Regions from separate parts of the Homo sapiens genome. Here region 1 is linked to region 2. The links come from fine-mapping of genetic effects on plasma protein levels. A gene starts in region 2. The other region holds a variant in brackets. All regions are shown on one strand. Distances are from middle to middle.

Region 1 (16,290 bases), 190 kb after region 2:
CCCTTTTACAGGAGGGTGAGTTTTTCCTCAGAGGGCCGAGTTGGATATTTAAAGCACAGACCTCCCCAGAAAGTACAACTGTAATGATAAATAATCTACTGTTTTCCCCCTTAATATACTTAATGGATAGTTGGGGGCTTTACAGTCATCTACTTGGTCTCCTGCCTTCCATTCTATCCTACCACTGCCCAACACCCGAAAGTAGTATTTAGAAACCCTTAATACCTTCCCGTGTCTACTAATAAAGTCTCAATCTCTTGACCCGGCATTTTAAGACTCTCTACATGTAATCCTAAGCAACCCTTCCGTTTCGTTTTCTTCCTCTCCTATATATGAAGTCTCTGTTGCAGTTACTCTGAACAGTTCCCAGTTTCTCACTTGAGTGCCTTTGCTCCTGCCTTTGAGTTCCTAGAAGGTCTTGGATCCCTTTTGCATCTGGCAAACCTATGCTTCCTATAATCTCCTGATGATCCAGCTGGAAATGGTCCTTCCCCTACATTCCTATAGCATTTACCCATATCATCCCTGTGACTCTTACCATAGTCTGCCTTATATTTAAGTGGTCTGAGTACTTTTTCTTTTTGAGACAGAGTCTCACTCTGTTGCCCAGGCTGGAGTGCAGTGGTGCAATTTTGGCTCACTGCAACCTCTGCCTCCCGGGTTCAAGCGATTCTCTGCCTCAGCCACCCTAGTAGCTGGGATTACAGGTGCATGCCACCACGCCCAGCTAATTTTTGTATTTTTAGTAGAGACGGGTTTTTGCCAAGTTGGCCAGGCTGGTCTCGAACTCCTGGCCTCAAGTGATCCTCCCGCCTCGGCCTCCCAAAGTGCTGGGATTACAGGTGTGAGCCACTACGCCTGACACTGAGTACATATCTTATTGCCCTACTAAATTCAAAGCTTCTCAAGGTATAGCTGTCTCCTGCACATCTAGTTCTTCAGTGTCTTTGAACTAGGGGTTCAAAACCTGTTTGCTTGCAGGCTTCTGGTTACACATGATAGATTGAAAACAAGTATTTATCTGCCATCTTCTAAATCCCTTAGTGTGGGTTCCTTTTCAACCATGTTCAAGAACTAGAAAAGAGGAAGTACTCATTATTGCTACTGCTATCACTCATTGATAGTTTACCTGCTCTGGACCAGAATATGCCCTTTTAAAGAAAGCATTTCATTTTAAGGAAAGCAAATTGCTTCTCATCATAGGCCCATCATTTATTTCCAAAAAAGACATCTGGATGAACAGTAGATTTCTGTGATCTAGAAAAGCATGGCTGATTGACTAAGTAGGGACAGTGTTAGGAGTGTTCTAAGTCTTTAGAGACTATTTTTACGGTAAGTAATTGTTTATTATTTGCCTACAGATATTTTTTCCCTTTTCCTTTGCCATTCCAAATACCATCCTGTAAAGCATCTGTCAGCTGTGAGCAGCAACATTCTGAAAAGCATAGTATTGGAGCTTGGAGACACATTTGCAAATTCTTATTGACATTTTTTTCTTACCAGCACTCTCATTATTTCTTGCTGTCTTCAGTCTCACAGATTCTAGGCCTCTGCTGATTTGCTTGGCCTGCCTTCCATAGGTTAGAACACTTAAAGTTCACAGGGTATTAATTGTGTTGATATTGAAATGCCATCATTCATTTTTATCTTTCCATTTTTGTCATATTTTTTAAATGGATGCTTGCTAACTGCTCCGTGGTTTTAGTTCTCTAGCTGCTCTTCTGGATGCTCCCAGATCAAGGCAGTGAAAATGGAACTGATGAAAGTCATTCCCTTGTCCCTGTGGCTTCAGAAGTGTGTTTGGACTTCCACAGGAGCTTTGAAATGAAGCCGAGAAATTTCATTTCCAGTGGGATTCCCTGACCCCTCCTGTTTCCTCCAGGATTAAGACATCACAAGAAGGTGAACAGGCAGAGCAGGAAGTGAGGAAATGGACAGTTGGGCCAAGGTGGATGGTCGCAGAAGCCAAATAACACAGTCTCTTACCAGTTCTCAGCTTCTGCACTAACTCCGTCTCCAAGAATTTGGTTATGTTCTCCATTTTCTGTTTTCTTCATCTCGTGAGAGCTACAAGGATACCTGGTCCCTATGTGGGCTTTGTTTCACCAGAGAGTCTTGCAACCCCCAACCCCAGAGAGTGGCAAAGGGTGGTGTCTCCACGGTTGTAAGTTCTGATGGACTGGAACTGATTTTTCCTATCTATGTAGGCTTTTTGGCATTTGGGGTGTGTGTCCTTGTCTATGCCTAAAGAGGCCACTGGCCTTCCCACCCTTTGCCTGGCGCTTTTTCCTCTCGAGCAGCTGGGGGCTTCAGACGATACCAGGTGTAACTGTGAGGCTCCTGGTTGGCGTGAGTGCTGGCAAAGCCTGTTAATTAGCACAGAAACACCCCAGTGCTCCATTAGCTGGGCCAGGCATTTGGAACCTTCCCCTCCTGTGGGCCCCTTCCTCCTAATGAGAGCTGGAAGAAGGGCCCTCACAAAACACTGCCTCAGAATAATATTCTGCTTTGTCCCCACCAGTAACCAGGGCTGACAGGATCACTCTGTCCATTTCTCTTCTAATTAGCACAATTCCAGCATGGCCTGAGCCAGCAAATAGAGAAAAGCGATCAAAAGCGATCGGACAACCGTACCGAATCACAAACACAAAGAGGGCCATTCCCTGTAATTAGGTGAGACAATTCCTCAGTCTTTTCTCGGCTGGAGTTTGCCGCTAAGACTCTTGCTGTTTGGGTCCCAGCAACACAAGTTACATGTCTCCCTGGGACACTAATAAGCCCCAAATTGTCTTCCGCTTCACACAACTCTACCCAGAGGACAGACATGGGGTGGTGGGGCAGGTGGCGGGGAGGGGGTGGGGCAGTGCAGTGAGGGGACGGGTCTCCCAACAAGCAGCTGCTGCAATGTTTCCCCAACTTCAAGAAGCAGACACTGGGGCTGTGGGCAGAGAGGTAAGAGTCAGTTGGCTTGAGAGAACTGCTCTTGGCACAGCCTGGCCCCTGTCACTTGAGCTGGAGTCTGAAGCACTGAGAATTTCTGACCCTCAGGGGAAGCCCCCTCTCAGCTATTTGCCCTACTCTGTTCATTCGCTGCCTCCTGTCTATGGCCCCCTCACTCCTCCCACCTCTGCAGACTGGTAGCATCACTCCAGGAACTACATTGAGCCCTTCACAAACTGTAAGCCCTACACAACTATAGTTACCATTGCAAAGAAAGCTAACACACAGCACGTGAGTGAATTCTGCCCTAGAAGACTGCATGACCTGGAAGGGGCACCCACTGCCCCCCTCACTCTGGCCTTCATTTCTAGCACCCATCACCTTTATGTCCCTGATTGTGTCCCCAACCCCTGCCTACTATCTCCTCTCTCCTGAAAGATCCCTGTTTTTTTAAAACAGAAAAGTGGCCCATCTGCCAGGGCAAGAAGCTGTAACTGGCCGCGCTCCATGTGGCTCAGAGGTTGGTCACTTAATGAACAAAAACAGCTCCCCCAGGATTGCAGCCCATTACGGGGATTACTTGGGGCGATACAGCCGTAAACTTGGTCATAGCCAGGGACAAAGGAATGCAGGGGAGAGTGGCAGTTGGAATCTCAATTAAACCCAAGTTCGGAGCAGAATTGGGCTCACATATTTTCATCTCTCTCTTGCCCTCTGCTTTCTGTCTCGATCTCTATACCTGATGTTTCTGAAAGTGACCTCCAATACCAAAGGAGATTCAGTTATGTAGAATCTGAGGAGCCAAAAAACTCAAGTAATCAGAGTTGCATTGTTTTTCTACCTTCAGTTTTCTGAGGCACAGAGAGGATAATGATAAGATTTGACTTTTAAAAATAACTTTTGGGACATGCCAAAGAATTGATCCAAATTTGTTCAATTTCCTACAGTTTCTTTGGTTATAAACAGAACTACCTGGCACATAATAGGTGCTAAAATAAGCATTTGTTGAAAGAATGAACTGTGCCTTGACATTCGGTGTTCATAGCCTCATTGCTGGTCTAAGATATAGTAAGTGCTTGGATTTTGAGAGAGAGGCAGGGGTGATCTTGTGTAAGTTACTTCTCTCTAAGCCTTGGTTTCCTTAGGACTTTTTCCACTTTAAAGAGTCATATCAGCATCATGGATAAGGGCACAGGCTCTGAAGTCAGGCTGCCTGGGTGCAAATAGCACCTAACTACTAGGGTAGCTGTAGAGATTAAACGAGTATTGCAAAGTGTTGAGAATGGTGCATGGCATATCTTACCCATTACGTATATAATTGCTTGATGGATAGATCTATAAAACAGATTCCATGTAGTATTTAATTTTTTATTATACTCACATTTGTTAAAAATTGACAATCCCTAGGCCGGACATGGTGGCTCACACCTGTAATCCCAGCACTTTGGGAGGCTGAGGCGGGTGGATCACTTGAAGTCAGGAGTTCAAGACCAGCCTGGCCAACATGGCAAAACCCCGTCTCTACTATAAAAAAAAAATGAAAAAATACAAAAAAATTTAGCTGTGCAGGGTGGCAGGTGCCTGTACTCCCAGCTACTCAGGAGGCTGAGGGAAGGGAATTGCTTGAACCTGGGAGGCAGAAGTTGCAGTGATCTGAGATTGCACCACTGCACTCCACACTGGGTGACAGAGTGAGACTGTCTCACACAAAAACAAACGACAAACAAAAAAAACATTGGCAATCCCTATAGGGAAAATATAGTAACTTCTGGTTACCTTGACTAGTCAGTTAAGCAGAATACCATTTCTGTAACCCTTCAGAAGAGCTGACAGTTTACTATTTCTCCTACCCCCATCCTTCCACCCACTGAGGCCCTGTGCCAGCATGGACACTCAGTAGAAACCATTGTTGACTCTACAGACAGTGGCATTAAGCAAGGGAGGGAAAGGTATACTTTGTGACATTGGCAAGTTTCTGAACTGATACTGAACTTGGCATACATAAGCCTCAAATCACTGTACTTTGCTAATCTTTGTAGTCCTAGTATTTTCTGAGCATCCATGCTTTTCCAATCACTGCACAGGAACACACTTCCCTGTTTGATTCAGTCATAACCTCCTACCCCTAACCCACCAGTCCTCCACATTCCTCCAGATAGTTTTCTTTTTCCTTTCCCTTCCCTTCCCTTCCCTCCTTCCCCCACTCCTCCCCCTCCCCCCTCCCTGCCTCCCTCCCTCCCTCCCTTCCTTCCTTCCTTTTTTTGGTGAGACAGGGTCTCCCTCTGTCACCAAGGCTAGAGTGCAGTGGCACGATCTCAGCTCGCTGCAACCTCTGCCTTCTGGGCTCAAGCAGTCCTCCTGCCTCAGCCTCCAAAGTAGTTGGGACCACAAGCACGTGCCACCACATCTGGCTAATTTTTGTATTTTTTGCAGAGATGGGGTTTCGCCATGTTGCCCAGGCTGGTCTCGAACTCCTGGGCTCAAGTGATCCGCCCACCTCCGCCTCCCAAAGTATTGGGATGAGCCACTGTGCCTGGGCCAGATAGTTTTCTATGGTGTGAGATTTGTCAGGTTCTCGCAAACCTGTCAGGTCCCTTTCCAGGACTAAGCAGGGTCCACTCAGGCTTCTGCTCCCGCAGCAGCCTCCTCTGGGCTTTGCCTTCTCTGGGAGCCCATGGAGAGACCCTCGCCTGACTGCAGCCTGAGGCCTCAGGGTCAAGCGAGGCTGAAGGTCACATCCCAGGGCCTTTCTGGACGCAGCCAAGCCCCAGGAGCCAAGCTGGCCTGAGCCAGTGACTTCACACAAAGGAGCAGCTGAGAAGAGTCAAGTTGGGAAAGTCAGTGACTTGAGGCTGAGTAGAAATGAGAAGTGCTGGCTGTGGCAGGACCCATGAAGGATATGTGAGGATTGGAACCAGAAATGATCTCTGAGGAATGGTGGTCGGGGGGCTCATGGGGAAGCAAGGTCCTGCGAGCTGCTTCACCTTGGCCTCCTACTTCCCGCCATCCACCTCTGCTGCTGCTGCCTCTGCCTTCAAGTGGCCCAAAGGCTGTTCAGATGTGCAGCTGTTGAGTAAATCATGGTACATTCCCGTAGCGAACTGCCATGCAGCCATTTGGTGTGTTTGCAAAGAGGTTATGATATCATGGAAGAAATGGTTTTGTCATAAGGATAAGTGAAATGGCCAGATATAACAATTACAGTGGGGTGGTGAATGGAAGGCAATAGGCGAAGGTGGTAATAGTGCTTGCTGCCTGGTTGGAGGAATATGGGGTATTGTTGTTTTCTTCTACATTTTCCAAACTCTCTACGGAAACAGGTATTGATTTTATAATACAGGGAGAAAAAAGCCTCTGGGGCCGGATATACAGATTTTAAAAGCCCTGCTTCTCAGCTCAGCCTGTTATCCTGCACACATGTGCATACATACATAGTTCATCGATAACCTTTGTATATGGTAATGAAATTTGTTCTTTAGTATGCAAATGTATATCAATCTGTACACCAATAAGTGTTTACTGAGCACCTAATAAGCATCCAGCTATACCCTAGGATCTCTACCTCATTGCATGTAATGTGGAAAAAAAAAACTTGTTCCCTATTCATGACAGTCCCATCTCTCCCCACACTCCTCAGAGCCTTTGCCCAGGAGCAGAAAAAAATCATTCAGTCAGTAGGTGTTCAGTGTTGCCAAATAGCTATCTTTTTCCTCAGTCTTTCCTTACCTACCCTGAGAAAATATGTCTCACCTAACTTTGCTGTAGAGTCGTAGCGTTAAGTTTCCCCCAGCTCTTGGACATGCAGCATCTTACTTCAGATGTGTTTGCGAGAGTTTCCTTCGCTACTTTCTCCTTGCTTCCCTTCCCCTTCCCAATTGGAGAGAAGGAAGAAAAGATGAGTTGGGGGTCAGGAGTAGAAATGGGTCAGAGAAGAGTCTGTAATTATACTCATGTTTTCATCACAAACAACCAGTTGGAGGCGCTGCACAATCAGGAAAGAGAAGGAAGTGCATTTCATCTGAGTTGGAGTCTGGAAGACACAAGGGATATGTAGGAGGTGGTTCTCACTTTTATTGGGAGACAAGTGTGTATATAAAGTCAGTTTCCCTGCAGGATGAGAAGCATAGTCATGGAATTGCTAAAGAAGATATAAAACCCTCAGGACCAAATGACATGAGAAAATGGAGAAGAATTGACCTTGTCCCCAAGAAGTGACTTGACCACATCAGCCCCAGGTTCCCAGAATATACAAGCCCACACATCTGACTAGGCCTGGGCTAGAAAATGGGCGGAAATTGGGAGCACTCCCCATTTTCCTTGATAGAAATAGATGGAGCAATGAGTAAAATTCTATGCCTGCCACATCTGCTGCGTCCTCCACTAATGTATGCACTTGTCCATCCTGTTTTCCAAAGAGGGACTGCTTTCTGTCCAGCTCAGAAGAGCAAAACGAAGAAGGAACAATGTCAGCCATGTGTAGCCCTGAATCCTGCCCTACCATTGCGGTCGCTCTAGGGCTTTCAGCCAGAACTGGGGTGGCCAGATCTGATCAGTCTTCCAAAGGAGCGAAGAGCACTCCAGAACAGACAGCTGAAGCAGTTGTTACAGCAGCAGGATTGCAGGGCAGGCGACGCTTCACAACATCACCAAAGACTGATGCAAATTGGTTTGGTTCTGACCCTGTCACACCAGGAAGGATAATGACTCCAGCAGCGCCAGGCATGGGAGGGAGCACGTGGTGGGGGCTGTGAGGATTGGTGTCTCACTTCACATCTTCATTAATGATCTGAAAGACAGGGGTAAACAGCATGCTAATGAAACCTGCAGATGATTGGTGTTACAAACCCCAGAGAGGACAGAGAAATAGCACAACGAGACCCAGAGAGCTTAGAAATATGGGCAGGAGACTGTCAAATGAGACTCGTCCTAGGAAAATGAAAGTCGACACGTCAGGGAGGAATGATGAAGGTGCCTCTGGGTGGGGGCCTGCAAACCTGAAAAGCAGAGATGGGTGGCAGGGTCAGGAGGTTGAGGGATATGATAAGGTTTGGGGTGTGTTGGAGGGAGACAGAGGAGCTGACCTTGAGGACCCAGGGGACAAATACCCTTGTGCATTTCTGGTCAGGACTGACCATGGGGCCAACAGTTCATGCAGCTGGGGAACCAAGCAGGTTGTACTGGCCCATTGGCCTGTGTCAGCTCCAGGACCCCTCTGCAACCCAGGACCTCTGATTTCACAGTCACAAGCTATGCCTATTTGCACCCAAGCCATTAAGGCTAAAAGCGCCATTTTGACCCGACCTGCTATTTTCCTAAAATGAAACAAGCCAAAATACATCTTTAACATTTTGCACTAAATTATTGGGGAATAGGAAATTCAAGAGCAGAGAAAGCAAAAAATGTCCGTATTTTCAAGGGTTTCCCATTCAATAAAGATTTATCAGAGCGTAACTCATTTATATTAAATCTACAAATCTTAAGTGAACAGCTCAATGATTTTTTTCCTTGACCAAATCACTTCACTTCACCAAGTCTTGGTTTCCTCGTCTGAAATGAGCATAACAGCAGAACATATCTCACAGCTGTGTTGTAAAGATTAAATTAGACTCGGTAAAGCCCCTTGGGCACAGTAAGTACTCACATATGGGGTGATTATTATTACTGTTTATTATCCTCTAATTTTATTCCTTAAGCTTTACTCTTAGCTCCCTAAGTAAATGATTAATTTCTTGAAGTCAAGGACTGCCTTAAACTTCTTTTCAGCTCATGGGTGCTGAATAAATCCTTGTTTGATGGATTAATGTGTTAGAAAATTCTTTTCATATAAATAATTTTATTCTTACCTAACTCAGATCTACTTTAAATGAAATCACTTTCTTCAAAATAAAACAAAAACAAGTAAAATCCTTATATCACAAGAGTGTTTTGAAGACAAAATATTCTGCCTTGAGTCTATGTTAACACCATGTGCTGTCTGGTGAAATTTTAGGCCAGAGGAAATCCCAGCCTGATGATTAAGAGCTCACTTTTGGGGCCGGGCACGGTGGCTCATGCCTGTAATCCCAGCACTTTGGGAGGCTGAGGTGGGTGGATCACAAGGTCAGGAGATCGAGACCATCCTGGCTAACACAGTGAAACCCCGTCTCTACTAAAAATACAAAAAATTAGCCGGGCGTGGTGGCAGGCACCTGTAGTCCCAGCTACTCGGGAGGCTGAGGCAGGAGAATGACGTGAACCCGGGAGACGGAGCTTGTAATGAGCTGAGATCGCACCACTGCACTCCAGCCTGGGTGACAGAGCGAGACTCCATCTCAAAAACAAAAACAAAAAACAAAAAAAAAGCTCCATTTTTGAGTCCAGTCGGGTTTGAATTGGGGTGACTAGCCGTCTGATTTGCTTGGAACTCAGGGGTTTCCTGGGAGGAATAACAGTCTTGACCATGTGACCGTTGATCACTCTAGTTTTAATGTGGTTTCTGCTACTTAATAGCTTTGGGGTGTGGCCTTGGATAGGATTGTTACCCTTATTGAACTTAGTTTCCTTTTCCGTTAAAGGGGGAAAATAACTACTTCACCAGGTTGTCGAAAGGATCAAGTGTCCCAGATGCGTTGGTTCACACCAGTAATCCCGGCATGTTGGGAGGCTGAGGCAGGAGGATTACTTGAGTCCAGGAGCTAGAGACTAGCTTGGGCAACATAGTGAGACCCCATCTCTACAAAAAAAATGTTTTTAATTAAATAAAATTAGCCAGCGCAGTGGTACATCCCTGTAGTCCCTGCTGCTCAGGAGGCAGTGCCGGAAGGATGGCTTGAGCCCAGGAGTTCAAGGCTGCAGTGAGCTATGGTGGCAGCATTGCACTCCAGCCTGGGCCACAGAGTGAGACGCTGTCAAAAAAAAA[GAC/G]AGGGGGTGGCAAGCATGATGCTCACACCTGTAATCCCATTACCTTGGGAAGTTGAGGCAGGAGGATCACTTGGGGCCAGGAGTTCAAGACCAGCCTGGGCAATATAGTGAAACCTCATCTCTCCAAAATTAAATTAGTCAGGCATGGTGGTGCACACCTGTAGTCCCAGCTACTTGGGAGGCAGAGGCAGGAGAACCACTTGAACCCAGGAGTTTGAGGCTGCAGAAAGTCATGATTGTGCTACTGCACTCCAGCCTGGGCAACAGAGTGAGACTGTCTCAAAAAAAAAAAAAAAAAAAAGAATTCAAAGAATATACCTTTGCCTATTCCACTTATACCCAACAAAAATGAGTTGACACCAAAAGACACGTGTGAAAACAATAGCAACTTTATTCATTCAAGTAAAAAACTGGGGAACAAAGGCCATCAGCAGGAGAATGGATAGATTGTATATTCTATGTGGAATGCCAACTGGCAATAAAGAATGAACAAACTACCATGCCGCTTCACACAGTAATATGGATGAATCTCCCAAACACGAATGAAGGGCACATACCGTATGACTCCATCTGTATGAAATTCTAGAACAGGCAGAACTAATCTATGTGATAGAAGTCTAAATAGTAGTAACCTTGGAGGTATTAACTGAAAAGGGGCCCGGGGAGCCTTCTGGGGTTTTGGAAATATTCTCTGTCTTGATCTGAGTGCTGGTTAACACAGGAGGGTATGTGTGTAAACATTCATCGAGCTGTGCAGTTAGTGGCTGCACACTTTAGGTAAGCTGTGCCTTAAAAGAAATTAAGGTTCTCTGAGCCTCTAGAGGGAAGTGTTGATGAAAGCTGATGGTTTTTATGTTTCAAACCACCCCATGGAAGCTATTTGGGGCAATAGCATAGGGGAATCTAGAGGATCCCAGACTCACCCTGGGTTCAAAGCTATGAAGTCAGAAAGAAGGACAGAAGATGGTCAACATGTCCCTTTGGCAGCTGCCACTCATGCTCCACCAGTGACTGAGCATAAGGGCTGGAGGGCCCTGTCCTGTGCCCTCACTCACCGTGACCTCAATGTGGGGGAGGGCTGTCAGTCAAACTCCAAGCCCAGATGCTGCACCCTTGGGCTCTCCTTCGAGGGAGCACCTTTGTCTACCCACCCTTTACTGAGAAATCAGTCCCCAGACTGGGGGCTCCTCAAGAGCGAGGACCAGATGTGTGTTTCTGTTTCTCCAGAGCCTGACCTATCATAGATGTTCATTGTACAGTTGCCAAATGGATGCCTCCAGTGACCTAACTCATCACTTAAATTCTTCCCAGATGGAACTGGCCACTGATCTTAAAGCCAAAGATAGGCTTTTTCACTCATGGATCATTCAGGCACTCCTTCCTAAAATAACTGGGATTCCAAGAGAGCTACCAGCATCTCTGACATGCTTCCGATCAGTGCAATTCTGATTCTGTTAGAAAGGATCTTCAGGCCGGGCGCAGTGGCTCACACCTGTGATCCCAGCACTTTGGGAGACTGAGGCGGGCAGATTACCTGCGGTTGGGAGTTTGAGACTAGCCTTTATTTTTAAAATAAAATAAAATAAAATAAATTCAGTTTCTTAGTTGCGCTAGGCACATTTTGAGTGCTCAGTAGCCACTTATGGCTACTGACTACCACTGTATTCGACAGTGCAGAACTGCATGCATTTCCATCATCATAGAAAGTTCCAGTGGACAATGATGGATTCCAGGTGATCCTCTTGGAGCCTGTAGCGGAGGGGAGGAAGGAAATAGGTGGGTAGGACTGGGCCCCCACCCCCAGTTCAACCAGAGGCACTTTGCCTATAAATTCAGATTTCAAGTTAGATTTCATTTGGGAAAAAAAAGTATGACTTTTTAAATACTTTTTGAAAAGGTAGTAAATACAAACTATATTTAAAATGAACAGATTATGAAAAAATACATCTTCTTGCCATCCCATAACCCTCAGACCACTAGTTAACAGCTTGTGGAAACTACACCTGTTCTGCAGCTTGCTTTTTTTTTTATCTTGGATCTTGTTCATATTGGTACCTAGAGATGTAACAGCTACATACTATTCCACTATATGGATGTGCCTTCAGTTACCTAGCCAGGCCCTGTGATGGACATTCAGGTCATTTCCTGTCTTCTGCTACTACGAACTATGTGGTGATGAGCAGATACCCTTGTGTTTAGGTATCTGTGGATATATCACTAGCAGGGGAATTGCTGGGTCAAAGACCACATGCATTTTAAACTTTAATATATATTGCTGAATTGCATGCCCCGTGCCCAAAAGAGATGGCAACAACAAGAAGGTCTTTTCCCCACACCTTCCACCAGGCCACTGTGATCAGGCCTGCAGGTGTCCTGCAGGGTAACGGTGGCTTATCTTGGGAGGGGGTTGCCATTGCCTCCCCACAGCACTGGGGCCCATTCCACCCAATCACTCTCTCTTCTTGTCACTCCTTCCTGCCACCAAGAATAGTTAACTTTTTATTTTAAAAAATTTTAATGGACTAGTTAACATTTGATTGAGCACTCATCAGGCCCCCGGGTACAAATCCTGCTCAGCCTGACCCTGCTCATTCAATTCACAGATTTGTCCTTTACTTCGGTGCTTCATGGACTCTTCATGACAACCTCCTGAGGCAGGTACCATTATTATTCCCATTCTACAGCGGAGAAGCCTGAGGTTTAGCGATTAAATCACTGGTTCACAGTCACCTAGCTGGTTAGTAGCAGAGCTAGGATCCAGCCCCAGGTCTGTGTCACCTCACAGCCTATGCTTAGTTCCAACAGGCTGCCCCACTCACCTGCTTCCCCTCATCCCTCCTCCCTTCATGGACACCAGCTCTCCCTCCCGCCCTCCGGCCCTGTTAATACCCCACTTCTCTTACGTGTCTTTGCTGAAGTACCCACAAGCCCTCACTCCCTGCCCACTCTCTCCCTCTTAAGGTCAGGGCAGACACCTCCATCCGGACCCTTCCTCCCTCACTGCCTTGGCTTCCTCTACTCTTGGCCTTGGGACTGCCCCACCTGAACTCCTGGGTCGGCCCAGCCCTCCCCTAGGTGATCGCCTCAGCCTACAGGGGCCGGGAGAGCTGGGGAGGGAGAAGCAGCGGCTTGCATCACCTGACCCTACTCAGCCAATTCACGAAGACAAGATGTCAAGTTAATGAGCCTGTGGGCCTCTAATTAGCTGTCAATTACCTCAAATTAATCACCTCCTCGCCTAATTAAGCATTATCGGCAGGTGGGCACAAAGCAGACCATTGTGTGAGAGCCATGAGAAAAGCTGGGCTGGCAAACTTGGTTAGGATCAGCTCTGTGCACTGCGCCCGCCTCCCCACAGCGCTCAGCCATGGGCCCAGCTGAGAGGCCCTGGGGCCCTCTGCCCACCACTGTCCCCAGACACTGGGGTACTTGGGGACCTCCTGGGAAGCTGAGTGGACTGGAAGGGAGGTACAGAGCCTAGAGGCAGGTGAGACAGCTTTGGGGCAGTGGGGCGGTAGGAACTGGAGGCCACGGAGAAGGGCGGAGCTTCAAGGCGTGGTGACCAGCTCCAGGCACTTACTGAGAGCCAAGGCGAGAGCTGGGCAGAGGGGACACCAGGTTGTGGCTGGGCGTCCAGGCCTGTGCGGGCAGGCAGAGCTGGCTTCCAATGCTGGCCTGGCCACTTGTGAGTTCTGTGAACCCAGAAAGAGACAATGTTTTTGAGCCACAGTTTCCATCCCTGGGAAGAAAATTTTTTTTGTTCTAAACACTGTCCTGGGTCTTTGTGAGGGTTCAGTAGGATCATGCTTGTGGAGCACCTGCCACATGGTAAATGTTCAATGTCTTTACTAGTGGCAACAGTGGACATGGGTGGTTTAAGACCCAGGGCCACCTCACCTAACAACTGCTGAAGCTGTATTGTATCCCCAAATTCTGAGCCCCCGGGCCTCAAGCCTGTAGTGCACCCTTGAAAAATGTGAGTGGGCTGGCCAGGCGTGGTGGCTCATGGCTGTAATCCCAGCACTTTGGGAGGCCGAGGCGAGTGGATCACCTGAGATCAGGAGTTCGAGACCAGCCTGGCCAACATGGAGAAACCCTGTTTCTACTAAAAATACAAAAATTAGCCAGGTGGCGGGTGCCTGTAATCCCAGCTACGCAGGACGCTGAGGCAGAAGAATCGCTTGAACCTGGGAAACAGAGGTTGCAGTGAGCTGAGATCGTGCCACTGCACTCCAGCCTGGACAACAGAGTGAGACTGTCTCAAAAAAAAAAAAAAAAAAAACAGGAAAGAGAAAAGAAAAATGTGAATGGGCTGCTAGGACGCACGGTTGCTGGATGCCGGGCTATCTGGCTACCACTTCCTCTCCACTCCCTCCCCATCGCCCAGCACCTTCCAGGGATCAGAGCCCCACTCACAAAGTGCCCTTGGTGCCATATGGAGCTCACCAGATGAGAAGACCACAGTTCTCTAACTAGAGACCAAGAAGAAGAGGGCCCCTTGGGTCTTGGGACTGCAGGGCCTAAAGCAAGGGGGGTCTCCAGGCAGCCCCTGGGCACTGAGTTCATGCCCCCAGCCATGGTCCTGGGAGGCTGAACAGAGTTCCCGCTCTCCTCGGCACAGGGCAGGGTGAGGCTGGGGGCCACCTGGACAGCTCTGCGCTCCCACTGACTGTCAAAGGCCACCACTCCCATGCCAGATCTGTCCCCTCACCCCACCCTAGCCGCCCCTTGTAATCTGTACCCACTACTTCAGCCCTGGCACAGGAAGACCTTTCCCTATCTCCTGTGGTAACAGAGACCCTTAGCCTCGCCGCCATGAAAGCTTGGAAACATCTTTCCTCTCCTTGGTCTCGGTCATTTAGCAAACATTGTACCTTACTAATTAAGCTCACTGTAAAGGGGTGATGGTCAGGTGAACACAAATCATTAATGGATGCTCTGGAGAGACAAAGAACAAAAAAAAGCTAGCACTTATTAAGTGCCTACTGTGTGCTGACAGGAGTGGTAAGAGATTCCGTGAATATGTTACACCTGTATATACTGTTATGTTTAATGAATTATTTATCAAAATAGATAATACATATACACACAATTTTTTAAACTAAAATAAGGGTGTAGAGGAAACCACAGGCTTCCCTCACTCCCCTGCCCTCCAGCCATCTGATTCTGTTTCCCACAACCAACCAGTAACCAGTTTTTCATACACTTTTCCAGAAATTAAAAAATATTTATATGTATATACATATTTCATTTTCACAAGTGAAATAAAACGTACTGTCCATCTTCCTTTTTTAAAAATAATACCGTCAGCCGGGCGCAGTGGCTCATGCCTGTAATCCCAGCACTTTGGGAGGCCAAGGCGGGTGGATCACCTGAGGTCAGGAGTTCGAGACCAGCCTGACCAACATGGAGAAACCCCATCTCTACTAAAAATACAAAATTAGCCTGGCGTGGTGGCACATGCCTGTAATCCCAGCTACTCAGGAAGCTAAGGCAGGAGAATAGCTTGAACCCGGGAGGTGGAGGTTGCAGTGAGCCGAGATTGCGCCATTGCACTCCAGCCTGGGCAACAAAAGCGAAACTCCGTCTAAAAAAAAATAAATAAATACTGTCTTGGAGATTGAATGTGGAATAGCAGCACAGTATTCCACTGCATGAATGTGAACTTTTTTCTTCTCTTTAAAATTACGTAAAAGTTGGCCGGGTGCAGTGGCTCACACCTAGGAGCGTCTGTCCATTAGCTTGTATGTCTGTCCGAATGGAAGTGCCTCCCTGGGCCGGGTGCGGTGGCTTACGCCGGTAATCACAGCACTTTGGGAGGCCAAGGCAGGAGGATCACTTGAGCCCAGGAGGTCGAGGCTGCAGTGAGCTGTGGAGGCACCACTGTACTCCAGCCTGGGTGACAAAGCAAGACCCTGTCTCTAAAAAACGGGGTGATGGGGCTCTTCCGAGTGAAAAGGTGGAACTACTGACCTAGTCCCACCCTGTCAGTTCACCATGAGGAAACAGGCTAGAAAAGGGGTTGACTTGTCCTTAGTCTGGAGCTGCCTTGTCAGGTTCTTCCAGGTACCACTTGATCACGTGGACGGGATGGCATTAGCCGTGCACACTGGGCAAATGCTCCGCCACCCTCCCTGCTCTGCTGGGCTTGGGAGGAGTAAGCGGTGGATGAGATGTCCCTGATGTGTTGGGCCTCCAAGGAGGCCCTTTATTTATTTGTTTGTTTGTTTGTTTGTTTATAGTTGAGTCTCACTCTGTCACTCAGGCTGGAGTGCAGTGGTGCTACCTCAGCTCATTGCAACCTCTGCCTCCCCGATTCAAGCGATTCTCCTGCCTCAGCCTCTCAAGTAGCTGGGATTACAGGCATGCGCCACCACGCCTGGCTAATTTTTTGTTTTTTAGTAGAGACGAGGTTTCACCATGTTGGCCAGGCTGGTCTCCAACTCCTGA
Region 2 (16,290 bases):
CTGTGAGCTCTCAGCTAGGAACAACAAAGCAGAATTTGCAGAAATCTGACCTATGAAAAAGTGAAGTATTACTTATATATGTTACTTACCAATTTTTTCTTTCCTTCTGAATTTTCTCCTTGGTTCCTTTATTATATCACTTTTTCAACCTGTGTAAGATGGACATGAATAATTATAAGAACAGTTTCCTCTTTTTCTCTGCTGTCAGTATGCCTACTTTTGACTCAGTTATCTCTTCCACATTTTCATTTCTAATCTTTTCAGGCTTTGGAACCCAGATCACCAAGCTCATCTCCTGAGTTGTAGTCTAATGCCCTTCAGCTCTTTCTGCTCCCCTACACTTTCTTCTCACTCAAACTACAACCTCAGCCACTTTACCACACATCCAGCTCATTTAAAAAGTCACCAACAGCAAGAGAAGCAAGTCACACTCCCTCTAGAAGCTGGTGTATATGTGTGTGTAAAGGTGGAGAAGGCAATGACCAAGGAGCTAATTCATAAGTAAAGTACACAGACTGGGCGCAGCAACTCACGCCTATAATCCTAGCATTTTGGGAAGTCAAGGCAGGCAGACAGCTTGAGCTCAGGAGTTTGTGACCAACCTGGGCAATGTGGCGAAACTCCATCTCTACAAAATATAAAAAAAATTAGCCAGGTGTGGTGGCATGTGCCTGTAGTCCCAGCTACTTGGGAGGCTGAGACAGGAGGATTGCTTGAATATGGGAAGTCGAGGTTGCAGTGAGCCGAGATGTGAGGTCTTTTTTTGCTGTTAAAATGTCAGCCATATGTTCCACAGTATGATCAATGAGTGGCTACTTACTATTACATGCACGAGTATGTGGTTAAAAGGGACCAAGCAGATGGGGGCTTGGTGGCTCATGCCTATACTCCCAGCACTTTGGGAGGCTGAGGTGAAAGAATCACTTAAGAATTTGAGTTTATATATTATTTTCTATTCCCTCAGGAACAAAAAAGTTAAACTTACCTATGCAACATAAATCTGAAGATTACACATTCAAGACAGGATTTGAATTATGGATTTGACTCACGCAACCCATGTTATAAATTCTAACTATAAGGTCTCCAAAGTAAACATGTATTTTATTTATTTTTATTTTTTTGAGATGGAGTCTCACTCTGTCATCCAGGCTGGAGTGCAATGGCATGATCTCGGCTCACTGCAACCTCCGCCTCCTGGGTTCAAGCAATTCTCCCACCTCAGCCTCCCAAGTAGCTGGGATTACACGTGCCCACCACCATCCCCGGCTAATTTTTTATTTTTAGTAGAGAGGGGGGGGTTTCATTATGTTGGCCAGGCTGGTCTTGAACTCCTGACCTCAAGTGATCCACCAGACTTCGCCTCCTAAAGTGCTGGGATTATAGGCATGAGCCACCGGTCCCAGCTGGGACTCATTCATCTTTGAACACTGATTACTTAACAGAGTACAATCTGGCATATATGTTTAATTAATGTTTGTTAAATAAATTAACAAATACATAAATCTCATCACTCTGCTTCTCAAAATTTTCATTAATGTCCCACTGTCCACAACAGAAGTTACAAACTCAAACACCTACAGGCACCAGGCAGGAAATATAAATGAGTAAAGGTGTGTGTAAGACAAAAGGAACCGGTGGGGATTGCAGTAAACTGGAGAGCATGTGTCCCATCTAAAGGGGCAGCTTCTTGCTATTCCCACCAACTGCTACCATAATGGAATGTAGGCTCCATACTGCCAGGTCTTCTGATTTTTCAAGGTAAGCTGAAAGCACAGATTTCTTTGTAAAATCTGCTGATTTTTAAATGATGACAACTAATTCCATTTAAAAACCCCCAAAAACCTACCATTCAGGCCAAACGAAACACATTCTATGAGCCAAGTCCAGCCCTCAAGTCACAAGCTGGGGCCTCTAGTCTGCAGGATAAAAGACAAACTCCCTGTCTGACATTCTAAGTCATTCACAATGAGTTCCCAGCCTACCTTTTTAGAGTGTTTTGCCTACTTGTTCCATACAATAACCCTCTGCTCTAGTCTAGTGGTTCTGAAACTTTAGCACGCATCAGAACCACCTGGAGGGCATAGACTGCTGGGCCTCATTGCCAGTATTTCTGAATCAGTAGGTCTCAGGTGGGGCCTGTGAAACTGTAGTTCTAATAAGTTACCAGGTGAAGCTGATGTTACCGGTCTGTGGACCACACTTTAGGAACCAATGCTAGAGTTAAACTACTCCCTATTTTAAGCATACTCTGAATTGTGCTCACATTGTTCTAACTTCCCAGAGGAACTTCCCTCTCCTTTCAGTCCATCTCCTTCTATAAACTTTCCCTGACTACGACAGTCTTAAATGCCTCCAAATTCTATAGCACCTAGGGTTTGGGCCAAGCTTAGTCAAAACCCACAGCCCATGGGCCGCATGTAGCCCAGGATGGTTTTGAATGCAGCCCAACACAAATTTGTAAACTTTCTTAAAATATTATGAGATCTTTTTTTGTGATTTTTTTTTAAGCTCATCAGCCATCATTAGTGTTAGTATATTTTATGTGTGACCCAAGACAATTCTTCTTCTTCCAATGTAGCCCAAGGAAGCCAAAAGATTGAACACCCCTGGTCTACACCATCTCTCCTTTATCAATCCCTGCTTGGTACTGTTTACTGTTAAGTGTTTGTGTATGGGTGACAATAAGGTTGTATATTCTCAGAGATCAACATCCAGGTCAGAGCTTTATACATCTGACTGTAAACAATTTGAGGGCAAGGGCCTTCTCTTGTTCCTTACTGTACCCATGAAGTTATCAGACAGGCTGTTATACAGTTGGTATTCATTAAATGTTTCTTAAATGAATGAACATTTGACAGATCCATGACATAAAAATGCAGACAAGTGGGCCTAAAACTTAGGTAATTTTTCATTGCTTTTTTTAAAAAATAGAGACAGGGTCTTGTTATGTTGTCCAGGCCGGTCTCAAAATCCTAGGCTCAAGCAATCCTCCTACCTCGGCCTCCCAAAATGCTAGGATTATAGATGTGAGTCACTGTGCCCAGTCCAGGTAAGTTTTCTTAGAGAACTTTTAGTCTGTGGCTCTGTTGGGATGGACAACTAATAAAAATGGGATATTTTGCAAATAAAGGAACAGTAGTTAATGATTATTTGTAGGCATAGTGGTGCACGCCTGTAGTCCCAACTACTTGGGAAGCTGAAGTAGGAGGATCTCTTGAGCTCAGGAGCTTAAGTTCAGCCTGGACAACATAACAAAACCCCATTTCAAAAATATATGGCCAAGCATAGTGGCTCACAACTATAATTCCAGCACTTTGGGGGCCTGAGGTAGGAGAACCATTTGAGCCCAGTAGCAACAGAGTGAGATCCAGTCTTTACTCCCCCCCCCCACAAAAAAAAGTTAGCTGGGCATGGTGGCACAAGCCTGTGCTCCTAGCTACTCAGGAGACTGACATGGGAGAATTGCTTGACCCCAGAAGGTTAAGGCTGCAGTGAGTCATGATTGCACCACTGCACTCCAGCCTGGGTGACATAGTGAGACCCTGTCATTCATTAACAAATAAATAAACAAATAATTATCTGTGGTAACATATCTTGTATATAAGTAAAACATTGAATGTTTTAAATTTTTAAAAATTTATCTAAAAGTGATAAGATTAAATCCTTGACCGCCAGGATTTCTTAAAATGCCCCTGCAGAGATGTGAACTAGTCTTAATATCACGAGAAAATGTCAATTTAGTAGAATTCTATATTTGCAGCACATGCAATAAAAAAGCAGGATGAAAGTAACTCCTGGCCAGGTGTGGTGGCTCAAGCCTGTAATCTCAGCACTTTGGGAAGCCGAGGCAGGCAGATCACTTGAAGTGAGGAGTTCAAGACCGGCCTGGCCAACATGGGGGTGAAACCCTGTCTCTACTAAAATACAAAAATTAGCCGGGCATGGTGGCAGGCATCTGTAATCCCAGCTACTCGGGAGGCTGAGGCAGGAGAATTGCTTGAACCTGGGAGGCAGAGTTGAAGTGAGACAAGATTGTGCCACTGCACTCCAGCCTGGGCGACAGAGCAAGACTACCTCTCAAAAAAAAAAAAAAAGAAAGTAACTCCCATAAGAAACAGTTTGGATAATAATATATTTATTCAGGATTCTAAAGGCTATGTAGAAACAAAATCTAAAGTTGTTCACTTAGACTGATCCACCTATAAAGTACCATCTGCTATAAGGTGATCTCAAGAATGATTTATGAAGGGAAACATGGCCTCTAAGGTAAACCCGAATAAAGTTATAGATGAATTTATAAAGTAAACCCAGTTTTGGACCTACTAGAAGAAAAAAGCAGAAGTACTACCCACCCCCCGCCCCCCCTTTTTTTTTTGAGAAACAGTCACACCATTGCTCAGGCTGGAATACAGTGGCACGGCTCACTGCAGCCATGATCTCCCTGGGCTCAGGTGATCCTCTGAACTCAGCCTCCTGAGTAGCTGGAACTACAGGTACATGGCCACCACACCCAGCTAATTTTTGTATTTTTTGTAAAGACAGGGTTTTGCCATGTTGTCCAGACTGGTCTTGAACTCCTGGGCTTAAGCAATCCGTCTGCCTTGGCCTCCCAAAGTGTTAGGATTACAGGCATGAACCACCATGACCAGCCAGAAATTCTATCTATTTTGATACATAATAGTTCTAAATTTTATATATGGCTTGTTGGACAAAATTAACATCACTTGGCAAAAAACAGAGAATTAAATTCAGGAAAAAAAGAAAACCACCATTCAGGAACATTTGAAATACATTTATAAATTTAAGCTAGTGGAGATATTACCTTACATCTGGATACAAGTCCTACCTAACAGCACCATAATGATCTTGTCTGTATGAGGATTCAGCCAAGACACTCCACATTTCTTTGTTGACCAGGAACAAGGAAAACTGGACAGAAAAAGAATTACAAAACCAAGTCAACAAAACATGAAGTGGCTTATTCCAAGTTTAAAAGCATTAGTGTTCTAAACAATGAAACAAGGAAAATTTATTTAGTAATAATTCCTGGAACTTCATAGTAAAGGCACCTACCAGTAACTGTGGAAGGAAATGCTACCAGATAAACTACTAAATAGCAACTTCCTACTCTACTATCTGTACTATCAGTTGTTGCTCACCAGCAGATGACAGTAACAACATCCAGTTCTTTGGTAGAAAATGAGGGGATTCAGAAGAATGTAGACTCTATATCCACCTCTACCAGAGTATGAAATCTTGGCATTTCCCTGAGCCATATTCATGTCACAACAGCTTTATCTACAAAATCAAACTTAGTCAATAAAAAATATATATAATACAATAAAATAAACTAGGCCAAGTGTGGCGACTCATGCCTGTAATCCCAGCACTTTGGGAGGCCAAGGCAGGAGGATCACCTGAGCTCAGGAGTTCAAGACCAGCCTAGGCAACATGGCAAAACCCTGTCTCTACAAAAAATACAAAATTAGCCAGGCATGGTGGTGCATGCCTACAGTCCCAGCTATGCCAGAGGCTGAGGTGGGAGGATCACTTAAGTCCAGGAGGTCGAAGCTGTAATGAGCCATGATCCTGCCACTGTACTCCAGCATGGTTAAGAGTAAGACCCTATCTCAAAAAAACCATCAAAAAACCCAAAAACCAATAAAAGAAACTATAAAGTACTATAACTAAGGTACTACGCATACATTAATAATCTTGTTATAGTCAAATTTTTATGTTCATACATTAATCTGTAAGCCTATGTTCAAATGAGGAGTCTTGGACTGACTTTCATATTATAAAGTTACCAATTTCTAGAATAAATTCCAAATATACAGCCTGTGACAGAAGATGCCCTACTCTCTTTTCTGCAGCTTATCAACAGTGTGCTTTTTCAGAACCTTACACATACAAAATTAATGGTAACTTTATAGATTTTACATCAGAGATAAACTCTTCAATATATGGCGATTCCGCCTATGGACTCACGGGAGTGTGAAAGTATACCAGAAATACACTCAGAAAAAGCTATGATCGGCCAGGCGTGGTGGCTCACGCCTGTAATCCCAGTACTTTGGTAGGCCGAGGCGGGCGGATCACCTGAGGTTGGAAGTTCGAGACTAGCCTGACCAAAATGGAGAAACCCCGTGTCTACTAAAATTACAAAAGTAGCCGGGCATGGTGGCGCATGCCTGGATTCCCAGCTACTCGGGAGGCTGAGGCAGGAGAATTGCTTGAACCTGGGAGGTGGAGGCTGCGGTGGGCCGAGATCGTGCTATTGCACTCCAGCCTGGGAAACAAGAGCGAAACTCCATCTCAAAAAAAAAGAAAAGAAAAAGCCATGATCATGCTGGCAGATGGTATGTATAATAAGGTTTACGCCAGCCTGACCAACATGGAGAAACCCTGTCTCTACTAAAAATACAAAATTAGCCAGGGATGGTGGTGTGTGCCTGTAATCCCAGCTACTCGGGAGGCTGAGGCAGGAGAATCGCTTGAACTGGGAGGTGGAGGTTGCGGTGAGCCGAGATCGTGCCATTGCACTCCAGCCTGGGCAACAAGAGCAAAACTCTGTCTCAAAAAAAAAAAAAAAAAATTTTACAGCCGGGGGCGGTGGCTCATGCCTGTAAATCTCAACACTTTGGGAGACCAAGGCGGGTGGATCACCTGAGGCCAGGAGTTCAAGACCAGCCTGGCTAGCATGGTGAAACTCTGTCTCTACCAAAAATACAAAAATTAGCCTGGCATGGTGGCACGCACCTATAGTCTGTTACTGGGGAGGCTGAGGCAGGAGAATTGCTTGAACCCGGGAGGCAGAGGTTGTGGTGAGCCGAGATTGCGCCATTGCACTCCAGCCTAGGCAACAAGAGCAAAACTCTTGTCTCAAAAAAAAGGTTTACAGCCGGGGCGGTGGCCCACGCCTGTAATCTCAACACTTTGGGAGGCCGAGGCAGGTGGATCACCTGAGGCCAGGAGTTCGAGACCAGCCTGGCCAGCATGGTGAAACTCCATCTCTACCAAAAATACAAAAATTAGCCGGGTGTGGTGGCATGCACCTGTAGTCCCACTTACTGGGGAGGCTGAGGCAGGAGAATCGCTTGAACCAAGGAGGTGGAGGTTGCAGGGAGCCGAGATGCCCCACTGCACTCCAGCCTGGGTGACAGAAGACTCTCTCTCAGAAAAAAAAAAAAAAAAGTTTACAAGGCTTATCATTACCAAATCGGCATGTTCCCTCAGAAGAAACAGAAATTCAGAAACAGAAACTATGCAAGTGGGAAACAAGGCGGAGGGGAGTAATTAGAGGTCAAAGACATCGGGAAGGAGTGTACGGATTAAGTCCTCCCTAGAGAAATGGTGACGAAGGATCTACAACCACATTTAAAATAAACTTTTTAATTTGAAATGGAGTATAACAGAGCAGAGCTTCAACCACAAGTCTCCTAACTATTGGCTTGGCACTCAGAATACCGTACCTTCCTTAATGACTCACTGACTGACTCTCATTGAAAAATGAGAATACTTGTGAGTACACTCCTTTTCAGAGGTGTATTCGGGATTTCAGGAGTCGGGGAGGCAAGTTGAAGAGCTTCCAACTTTATGCAACTTTCAGGAAAGAAGGCTGCGGACCGGTATTAGCAAATGGAAATCCGGGGGGCGGTCGTGGGCAGGAAGTATCGGCCACACAGGACCTAGTGAGGCCGAGGACCCTGCTCCCGACCTCGGTGGCAGCACTCCCCTCCCCGCCCGGCTCCCTGGCGTGCCGCTGCTCTTCGGAGGCTGGCAGCCTCGCCCTCAACCACCGCCCTCGGGAAAGTCCTCGACTGCCTATCAAAAAACATTTGGCCTGGGACGTCCGCTGGCTGCACTATCCCTTACAGAATCAGCAAGGGTGAAAAGCCAGGAAAGAGATGCAACCCAAAGGAGTAAGGCAGTGCCGGGAGCGGCAGAAGCGGAGCGGGGGCGAGGGCAAGGTAGCCGCGGCCACGCTGGCTGCGGCATGGAGACACGGGAGGAACGGGACCCGCGGGCGGCACGGGAAAGGGCTGCGGCTCAGACCACTGCGGCGGGACGGGCGGATCAGCGGGGATCTAAGTCTCCTGAGGCAAGGGCGCCCCGACCGCAGCGACTCCTGACACACCCAGGCCGCAGGACGAAGCGCTACCGCCTGGGGCTGCCAGCTCCCGCCTCCCGCCCGCAGAGCCCGGGCCCCACGTAGAGGATCCGGCGCCGCCGACACTCGCACACTCACCGCGCGCGCGCCACCCTTGCGCGGCAGCCCGCCGCCCTCGGCGCGACCTCCGCCCCACCCCGCGCGCCGCGGCGCCTGGGCTACGTCACGGGCGCGTGCGCTCTCCGCGCGCCGTCAGCGGCGCGGGTGGGGCATTGCCAGCTCGGCGTCCCGGTTCCCTTGGAGACAGAGCTGGCCAGGGCGGCCGCGGCTGGGCAACTACGACAGCGGAGCCCCTGGGGAAGCCAAGATGCCGTCGAAGGGAAAGGACAAAAAGAAAGGCAAGAGCAAAGGCAAAGACACGAAGTAAGGAGAAGCCACCCGAGAGTCCCCTCTCCCTGGGCCTGCCTGGGATTTCGGGTCTGGGGCTGGCAACCTGGCGCCCCCCGCGCCGGCCCACTCGGACCCTCTCCCCGGCTCTCCCGGCTTGTGAGGATTACAGCTCCCATGTCCATAGTCTGGCAGATCTCTACTATGTGTTCAGATTATCTTAAACGTGTAGAGGATGTATAAAGTAGTTCCTTGGGCCTTTTCAGAGATCTCTTTTGGTTCAAAGGGGACACCTAAAGTATTTTACCAAGTTGGATAATTATTGAGGTTTTCCCAAACTGATCAGAGCCACTGAGGTGGGTAATGTTCTAGCACTAACCCCTTACAGGCCTGGAGTTGCTGCTAGATTGCTACTAGCCCTATTGGGGGACCCCGGTGGTTTCTGGACACGTTGGAGTCATACGTGGTGTCCAGCAACAACACCATATATGGGAACACAGAGTTGGCACCAAACTTGAGATGTTTGTAAAGTAACTTAAGAGAGTAATTCATGCTCAATACAGAAAGTTTGGGAAACATGGGAAGTACCAAAAGAAAAAACAAAAATCACCTGTAGTCTCATTATCCAAAAATAAACACTACTATATTTTGGAGTATTCTTTTTTAATAAAACGATAGCCCAATGTACATACTTATATGTGGCTTTTTTCTTCCCATTTGTTAATGTAAGTATTCTTTTATGGTATTTTTTTTTTGTTTTTACATAACTGCACAGTTAGTCTAGCCCTTAAAGTGCCAAGGGCTTATCACATTCCTAGAACTCACTAACATATGTTTTCAGATTTTGACCATGCTTCTACAGTACACATTTGAACAATGAGGAACACTAAGGGTAAGAGACCTTATTCCTTGGATTTTCCATGACCCATTGTTTGAGAAACCTGGCTTTGTTTCTACAGTGAGTATCAGTGGTCCTATTAGAGTGTCTAATTTCTTGCATCAAGTACTTTTTTTTTTTTCTTGACACCAAGTTTTGCTCTTGTTGCCCAAGCCGGAGTGCAATGGCACGATCTCAGCTCACTGCAACCTCTGCCTTCTGGGTTCAACCAATTCTCCTGCCTCAGCCTCCCGAGTAGCTGTGATTACAGGCACCCGTCACCACGCCCAGCTAATTTTTTTATTTTTAGTGGAGACAGGGTTTCACCATGTTGGCCAGGCTGGTCTCGAACTCCTGACTTCAGGTGATCCACCCGCCTCGGCCTCCCAAAGTGCTGGGATGACAGCCGTGAGCCACCATGCCCTGTCGCATCAAGTACTTCGAGCCACTCAGACCTGATACCTGGATGGTCGTAGTGAGACAGTGTATCACTAGTGCCTAAATCATGCCAGAAAGGGACATCAACAGCTATAACAGGCTGAGGGGTTGGGAATGGAGCTGGCCTTAATTTGAAGAGAACAAAAGGTGAAAGTGGGACTTTGGTTCTCTCCACTGCAAACCCATTACCTCTGTGGAAGAGGACTGAGAACCAGAGGTAGGAAAGTGGATGTGGAGGGTGGCAGTATAGAAAGGTCCACATGTACATATGTGTGAAAATATTTAGAATTCAAATACAGGTGAAATATTCTTAAATATGTACATATTTATATATCATGGTACCTACCATATATAAGGGGGAGTGTTTTGTTAATGCTTATACAATAAATATTTAGAAAAATCTCTTCCTTTACCACTTTAATCTTTGAATCCATCCTTTTTCCTCTCCACCTCTATATAAATGATTATGGTTTCTCAGGCATCCTTAAAGCCCGGTGGGTGGGGCATCGTGGCTCATGCCCAGCACTTTGGGAGGCTGAGCAGGGGAAGATCACTTGAGCCCAGGAGTTCAAGACCAGCCTGAACAACATAGGAAGACCCTGTCTCTACAAAAATTTTTATTAAAAATTAGTTGGGCATGCTAACTCATGCCTGTAGTCACAGTTACTTAGGAGGCTGAGGTGGAGGATCGTTTGGGCCTGGGAGGTTGAGGCTGCAGTGAGCTGTGATGGTGCTACTGCACTACAGCCTGGATGACAGAGCAAGATCTTGTTTCAAAAAAAAAAAAAAAGTCCGGTGAACTGTGGCACCAGCTGATAAACTATTTAACGTATTTGCCCTAGTGACTTGACTTTTTGTCCAAGACCTAGCCCAAAACAAAACAAAACAAAAACACCATCCTGGCTAACACGGTGAAACCCCGTCTCTACTGAAAATACAAAAAATTAGCCGGGCCTGGTGGCGGGCTCCTGTAGTCCCAGCTACTCGGGAGGCTGAGGCAGGAGAATGGCATGAACCTGGGAGGCGGAGCTTGCAGTGAGCCGAGATCACGCCACTGCTCTTCAGCCTGGGTGAAAGAGTGAGACTCCGTCCCTCCCCCAGAAAAAAAAAAAACACACTCAAAAGTGGAGGGTAAAGTGGGTGGGAGATCACAGTTATACTACCAATGGGTATCATCATGCAGAAACTGAACAGAGATAATGGGTTTGCAGTGGAGAGAACCAAAGTCCAGCACTGAGTGAGTAGGAATAGAAAAGATAGTTTAACTACAGGAGAATCAGGCTAGGGCACTGGTTCACACCTGTAATCTCAGCACGTTGAGAGGCCAAGGTGGGAGGATACTTGAGCCCAGAAGTTGGAGACCAGCATAGGCAACATAGTGGGACCCCATCTCTATTAAAAAAAAAATAAATATGGGAGAATCAAATAAGTAAATGAAAAGGTATAAAAACTGCCCAAGCGCAGTGGCTCACACCTGTAATCTCAGCACTTTCGGAGGCTGAGGTAGGAGGATCACTTGAGCCCAGGAGTTCAAGACCAGCCTGGGCAACATGGCAAAAACTCATTTCTACAAAAAGTACAAAAATTAGCTGGGCATAGTTGCATGAACCTGTAGTCCCAGCCACTTGGGAGGCTGAGGTGGGTGGATGGCTTGAGCCCAAGAGGCAGAGGTTCTGGGGAGCCGAGATCGTGCTACTGCACTCCAGCCCGGTGACACAGCCAGGCCCAGTTTCAAAAAGAAAAAAAAAAGATATGAAAGCTTTCTGAAATGAGTTTGGCTTATCCTGTCTTTTCCCTTTGTTTTACCAGTCTTTTCGAGTTATGCTCCAGGACTCCCCTCCTCCAGGAAGAGGCACTTACTTAATTATCTTATGTGAATACAAGTGAATATGTATTTCTTTTTTTTTCTTTTTTCAAATGTGAATATGTATTTCTTATTAACTTATTCTTCCAACAATATTTGATCATGTGTGCCAGGCAATGCCAAGCAAAACAAATAAAAAAAGAGAAAAATTTAATAGTAATATAATAGAGTTATATACTATCTGCATATTAGAGTTGTATAAATAGTCATATACTGTCAATATCCTCTTCCCATGCAGGAAGTTAATAAAAACAGATGAATCTGTGGTGGACAGAGCCAAGGCCAATGCCTCCCTTTGGGAGGCCAGGTTGGAAGTCACAGAACTCTCTAGGATTAAGTATCGTGATACTTCACGGATACTGGCAAAAAGTAATGAGGACTTAAAGAAAAAGCAATGTAAAATGGAGAAAGACATAATGTCAGTATTAAGTTACCTGAAGAAGCAGGATCAGGAGAAAGATAATATGGTAGGTAGGTAGAAAGCCTCCTTGGCCTCATTAACTACCTCTATGGTGATGCTGATGTGGTTATGTATTTCAAAGATTTTTAATTCCTTGAAATCTTAACATATACTTAAGACATTTCAATTGACCTTAACTCTGTTTGAAGCAAGACACTTTTTCAGAATGGTTTTACTGTTATCGGCTCTCTTTTATTTTCAATCCTTGTTGCATGTTTTCTTGTCTGAAGCAAACAGAGATTGATGATCATAAGGGAACTTTATGATCTACTTTATTTTAAGGATAAGAGCATGGTATGTGATCTATATATTTTTTGATGCTGATTTTTAGTTTTAAAAATTTGTAAAGCAGTTCACTGATAATCCATGATAACTTTCTGAACCCAGCAAGTTGAATCTTTATTTTTATTTTTGGCCAGTTGAATCTTGTATCTTATTGTACCTTATTAAAGTGTTGAGAGTAAAGCTATCATTTTATATTTGGAAGAAAAAAGGAGGCCGGGTGTGGTGGCTCACGCCTGTAATCCCACCACTTTGGGAGGCTGAGGTGGGCAGATTGCCTGAGCCCAGGAGTTCGTGACCAGCCTGGGCAACACAGTGAAACCCCGTCTCTACTAAAATACAAAAAATTAACCGGGCATGGCTGCATGTGCCTATAGTCCCAGCTACTCGGGAGGCTGAGGCAGGAGAATTGCTTGAACCCGGGAGGCAGAGGTTGCAGCGAGCTGAGATCATACCATTACACTCCAGCCTGGCAGCCTGGGCGACAGAGCGAGAGACTCCATCTCAAAAAAAAAAAAAAAAAAGAAAAGAAAAGAAAAAGGGAAGGGAACTAACATTTTGGAGCCACTACAATGTACTATACTGGGTGCTTTACCTCTCTTGATTCTTTTACTAACCTCCTATTTAATTATTTTTATGACCCCATGTAGCTATAATATTGTTATTTCCATATTACAGATGAAGAAATTGACTTTCAGAAAGGACAGGTAACTTGCCCAAAGTCACACCCCTAGTGGGTGTTAAAAGTGGAAATTCAGGCTGGGTGTGGTAGCTCATGCCTATAATCCCAACACTTTGGGAGGAAGAGGCTGGAGGATAACTTAGCTTAGGAGTTCAGGACCAGCCTGGGGAACAAAGCAAGACCCAGTCTCTACACAAAGTAAAAAATAGCCAGGCGTGGCAGTGTGCACCTGTAGTCCCAGCTACTCGGGAGGCTAAGGCGGGAGGATCACTTAAGCCCAGGAAGTTGAAGCTGCAGTGAGCCATGGTCATGTCACGGCAGTCCAACCTGGACATCAGAGCAAAACTCTGTCTCATATTATTATTACTTTATTATTATTTTTGAGACAGGGTCTCTCTCTATTGCCTGGTCTAGAGTGCAGTGGTATGATCACGGCTCACCACAGGATCGACATCCGGGCTCAGATGATCCTCCTGCCTCAGTCTTCCAAGTAGCTGGGACTACAGGCACGCACCTCCATGCCTGGCTAATTTTTTGTATTTTTGGTAGAGACAGGGTTTCGCCATGTTGCCCAGGCTGGTCTTGAACTCCTGAGCTCAAGTGATCCACCCGCGTTGGCCTCCCAAAGTGCTGGGATTGCAAGCATGAGCCACCATGCCTGGCTGATTTTTTTGTAGTTTTTGTGGAGATGGGATTTCGCCATGTCGCCCAGGCTAGCCTCGAACTCCTGGGCTCAAGAAATCCTCCCAACTTAGCCTCCCAAAGTGCTGACATTACAGGCATGAGCAATAGCACCTGGTCCAGAAATTTCTATCTTTATTTTATTTTATTTTTTGTATTTTTAGTAGGGACGGGGTTTTGGCATGTTGTTGGCCAGGCTGATCTGGAACTCCTGGCCTTGAGTGATCCGCCCACCTCACCCTCCCAAAGTGTTGGGATTACATGCATGAGCCACAAAACCTGGCCAATTTTTATTTTTAAAATTACTCTTTTAATAGTAGGTATTATTAAATTGCCCTCTATAAAGTATTGTTCTAAAGTAAGTTTTTTTAGTCAACCATAGAAATAATTTCCAAATGTGTTACTTAGATGCTTTGTTTTGTGGCTTGTAATAGCTCATTGTTATTGGTCTACATCAGTATCACTTGTACTTCCTGATTCTCATCTGCCTCCTTATATCAAAGGGCAGCATCTGGCAGTAACAGGTGGGTAATTTTTATAATCATGGATTGCCATTAAACCAAAAGAAACAACCTTGGGAGGAAGAAACAAAGTAGACTAAATATATCCTCATTAACTAGCTTTCCCATAGTTTTGTTACTCATTTTGCTATATACTAGAAAAATGTTATGTTGTTAAACTTTGTTTAAACTGTTTATAGTCATGTTAATTATAGAAATAATAGAAATGAAATGTGTTTTGAAAACTATTTTATTATGAACAAAATTAGGAGATTCCCCTTAAGAGAATTTAATGCTGTACTGAATTAATCACAGAATAATCTCATTAAATGTCACACCAGTTTTATGTGATTTAGGATTGTCCCAGTTTATTTTTTAGAATATCTAGATTTTTTCCTAAGGTGGTCTAAAACATTGTACATAGTATCTCACTTGTGTCAACAACCATGTCAACAAGTCTTTAGTTTAAAAAGCTACTCAGATTCCCTTCTAAAACAAACCAGCATTCCTTGGAGAAATGGTTGATTTCAGGACTGGAACAGGGAATATAAAACATGAGGCTGGGCTGTTCATGGTGGCCCATGCCTGTAATCCCAGCACTTTGGGAGGCTGAGTGGCGGGGTGGGGGGGGTGCATCACATGAGGCCAGGAGTTTGAGACCATCCTGGCCAACAGAGTGAAACCCCATCTCTACTAGAAATACAAAGAATTAGCTAGGCATGGTGGTGCGTGTCTGCAGTCCCAGCTGCTTGGGAGGTTGAGGCACGAGAATTGCTTGAACCCAGGTGGCAGAGGTTGCAGTGAGCCAAGATTGTGCCACTGCAGTCAAGCCTGGGCAACAGAGTGAGACTCTGTCTCAAAAAAAAAAAAAAGAGAGAGACTGGGGGCGGTGGCTCATGCCTGTAATCCCAGCACTTTGGGAGTCCAAGGCGGGTGGATTACTGAGGTCAGCAGTTTGAGACCAGCCTGGCCAACATGACGAAACCCCATCTCTACTGAAAATACAAAAATTAGCCAGGTGTGGTGGTGGGCACCTGTAATTCCAGCTACTCAGGAGGCTGAGGCAGGAGAATCATTTGAACACAGGAGGCGGAGGTTGCAGTGAGCCAAGATCATGCCATTTTGCACTCCAGCCTGGGCAACAAGAGTGAAACTCCATCTCAAAAAAAAAAAAAAAAAAAAAAAAGAGTCTGGAATATGTTATTGTGCCAGAAAATAAAAAATTTTAAAGGACATGGCCTTGTTTGAAGGGGCTTCCATTGGCCAAATCTGGGACAATCAAAATATTAGGTTGGTGCATTAAAAGAATGGCAAAAACCACAATTGCTTTTGCACCAACCTAATAAATAATAGCAAAAATGGCTGGGTGCAGTGGCTCACACCTGTAATCCCAGAACTTTGGGAGGCCGAGGTGGGCAGATCACCTGAGGTCAGGAGTTCAAGACTAGACTGGCCAACATGGCAGAACCCTGTCTCTACTAAAAATACAAAAATTAGCCGGGTGTGGTAGTGTGCACCTGTAATCCCAGCTACTCAGGAAGCTGAGACAGGAGAATCGCTTGAACCCAGGAGGTGGAGGTTGCAGTGAGCTGAGATTGCGCCACTGCACTCCACCCTCAGGGACAGAGTGAGACTCCATCTCAAAAGGAAAAAAAAAAAATGGCAAAAACTGCAGTTGCTTTTGCACTGACCTAATAAATAACAACAGTAATAGATTATAACCTATTGAATGAAATAAAAATCCACGAGTGTGTACTACTAATAAACACATACATGAATAAATAAGGGAGAAAGGAAGCCTTTTTTTTTTTTTTTTTTTTTTGAGACAGAGTCTCGCTCTGTCACCCAGGCTGGAGTGCAGTGGTGCGATCTTGGCTCACTGCAACCTCAAAGGATCACTGCAAAGGATTCTCCTGCCTCAGCATCCTGAGTAGCTGAGACTACAGTTGTGCCACCACCCCGCCTGGCTAATTTTTGTGTTTGTAGTAAAGACGGGGTTTCACTGTGCT

Alleles and levels. Alleles are on the strand shown, and positions count from the first base shown. The strength of an association depends on the size of the effect and on how common the allele is.
For the plasma level of the protein whose gene starts at base 8,287 in region 2, GAC is the low allele of the variant in region 1 and G is the other (moderate association).

What was found. PIP is the chance, under the fine-mapping model, that this variant and not a neighbour inherited with it causes the effect. Protein levels are from antibody-based Olink assays in UK Biobank. Linkage for the fine-mapping came from a reference panel and not from the study's own genotypes, which makes the PIPs less certain.
Region 1: its variant is fine-mapped to the plasma level of the ENTPD5 protein (UK Biobank, PIP above 0.99).

What each region holds. Positions count from the first base shown.
Region 1 is chr14:74,201,226-74,217,515 of GRCh38, forward strand. LOC105370564 (a long non-coding RNA gene) reads right to left here. Exons shown (of 3, transcript XR_944025.3): 2 at 13,421-13,532; 3 at 7,636-7,726. LIN52 (lin-52 DREAM MuvB core complex component) reads left to right here. Exons shown (of 6, transcript NM_001024674.3): 6 at 1-268. Among named protein-coding and RNA genes, the nearest start is that of VSX2, 30 kb to the right of the region's middle. RefSeq lists a silencer at 948-1,148. The variant GAC/G (reference allele first, on the strand shown) is at 9,839.
Region 2 is chr14:74,011,002-74,027,291 of GRCh38, forward strand. It overlaps ENTPD5 (ectonucleoside triphosphate diphosphohydrolase 5 (inactive)), which reads right to left and starts at 8,287. Exons shown (of 16, transcript NM_001249.5): 1 at 8,249-8,287; 2 at 4,823-4,929; 3 at 90-149. It overlaps BBOF1 (basal body orientation factor 1), which reads left to right and starts at 8,348. Exons shown (of 12, transcript NM_025057.3): 1 at 8,348-8,533; 2 at 11,915-12,143. The coding sequence starts at 8,478. RefSeq lists silencers at 7,645-7,939, 7,855-7,924, 7,965-8,104, 8,115-8,184, 8,215-8,464 and enhancers at 10,745-11,039, 10,805-11,099.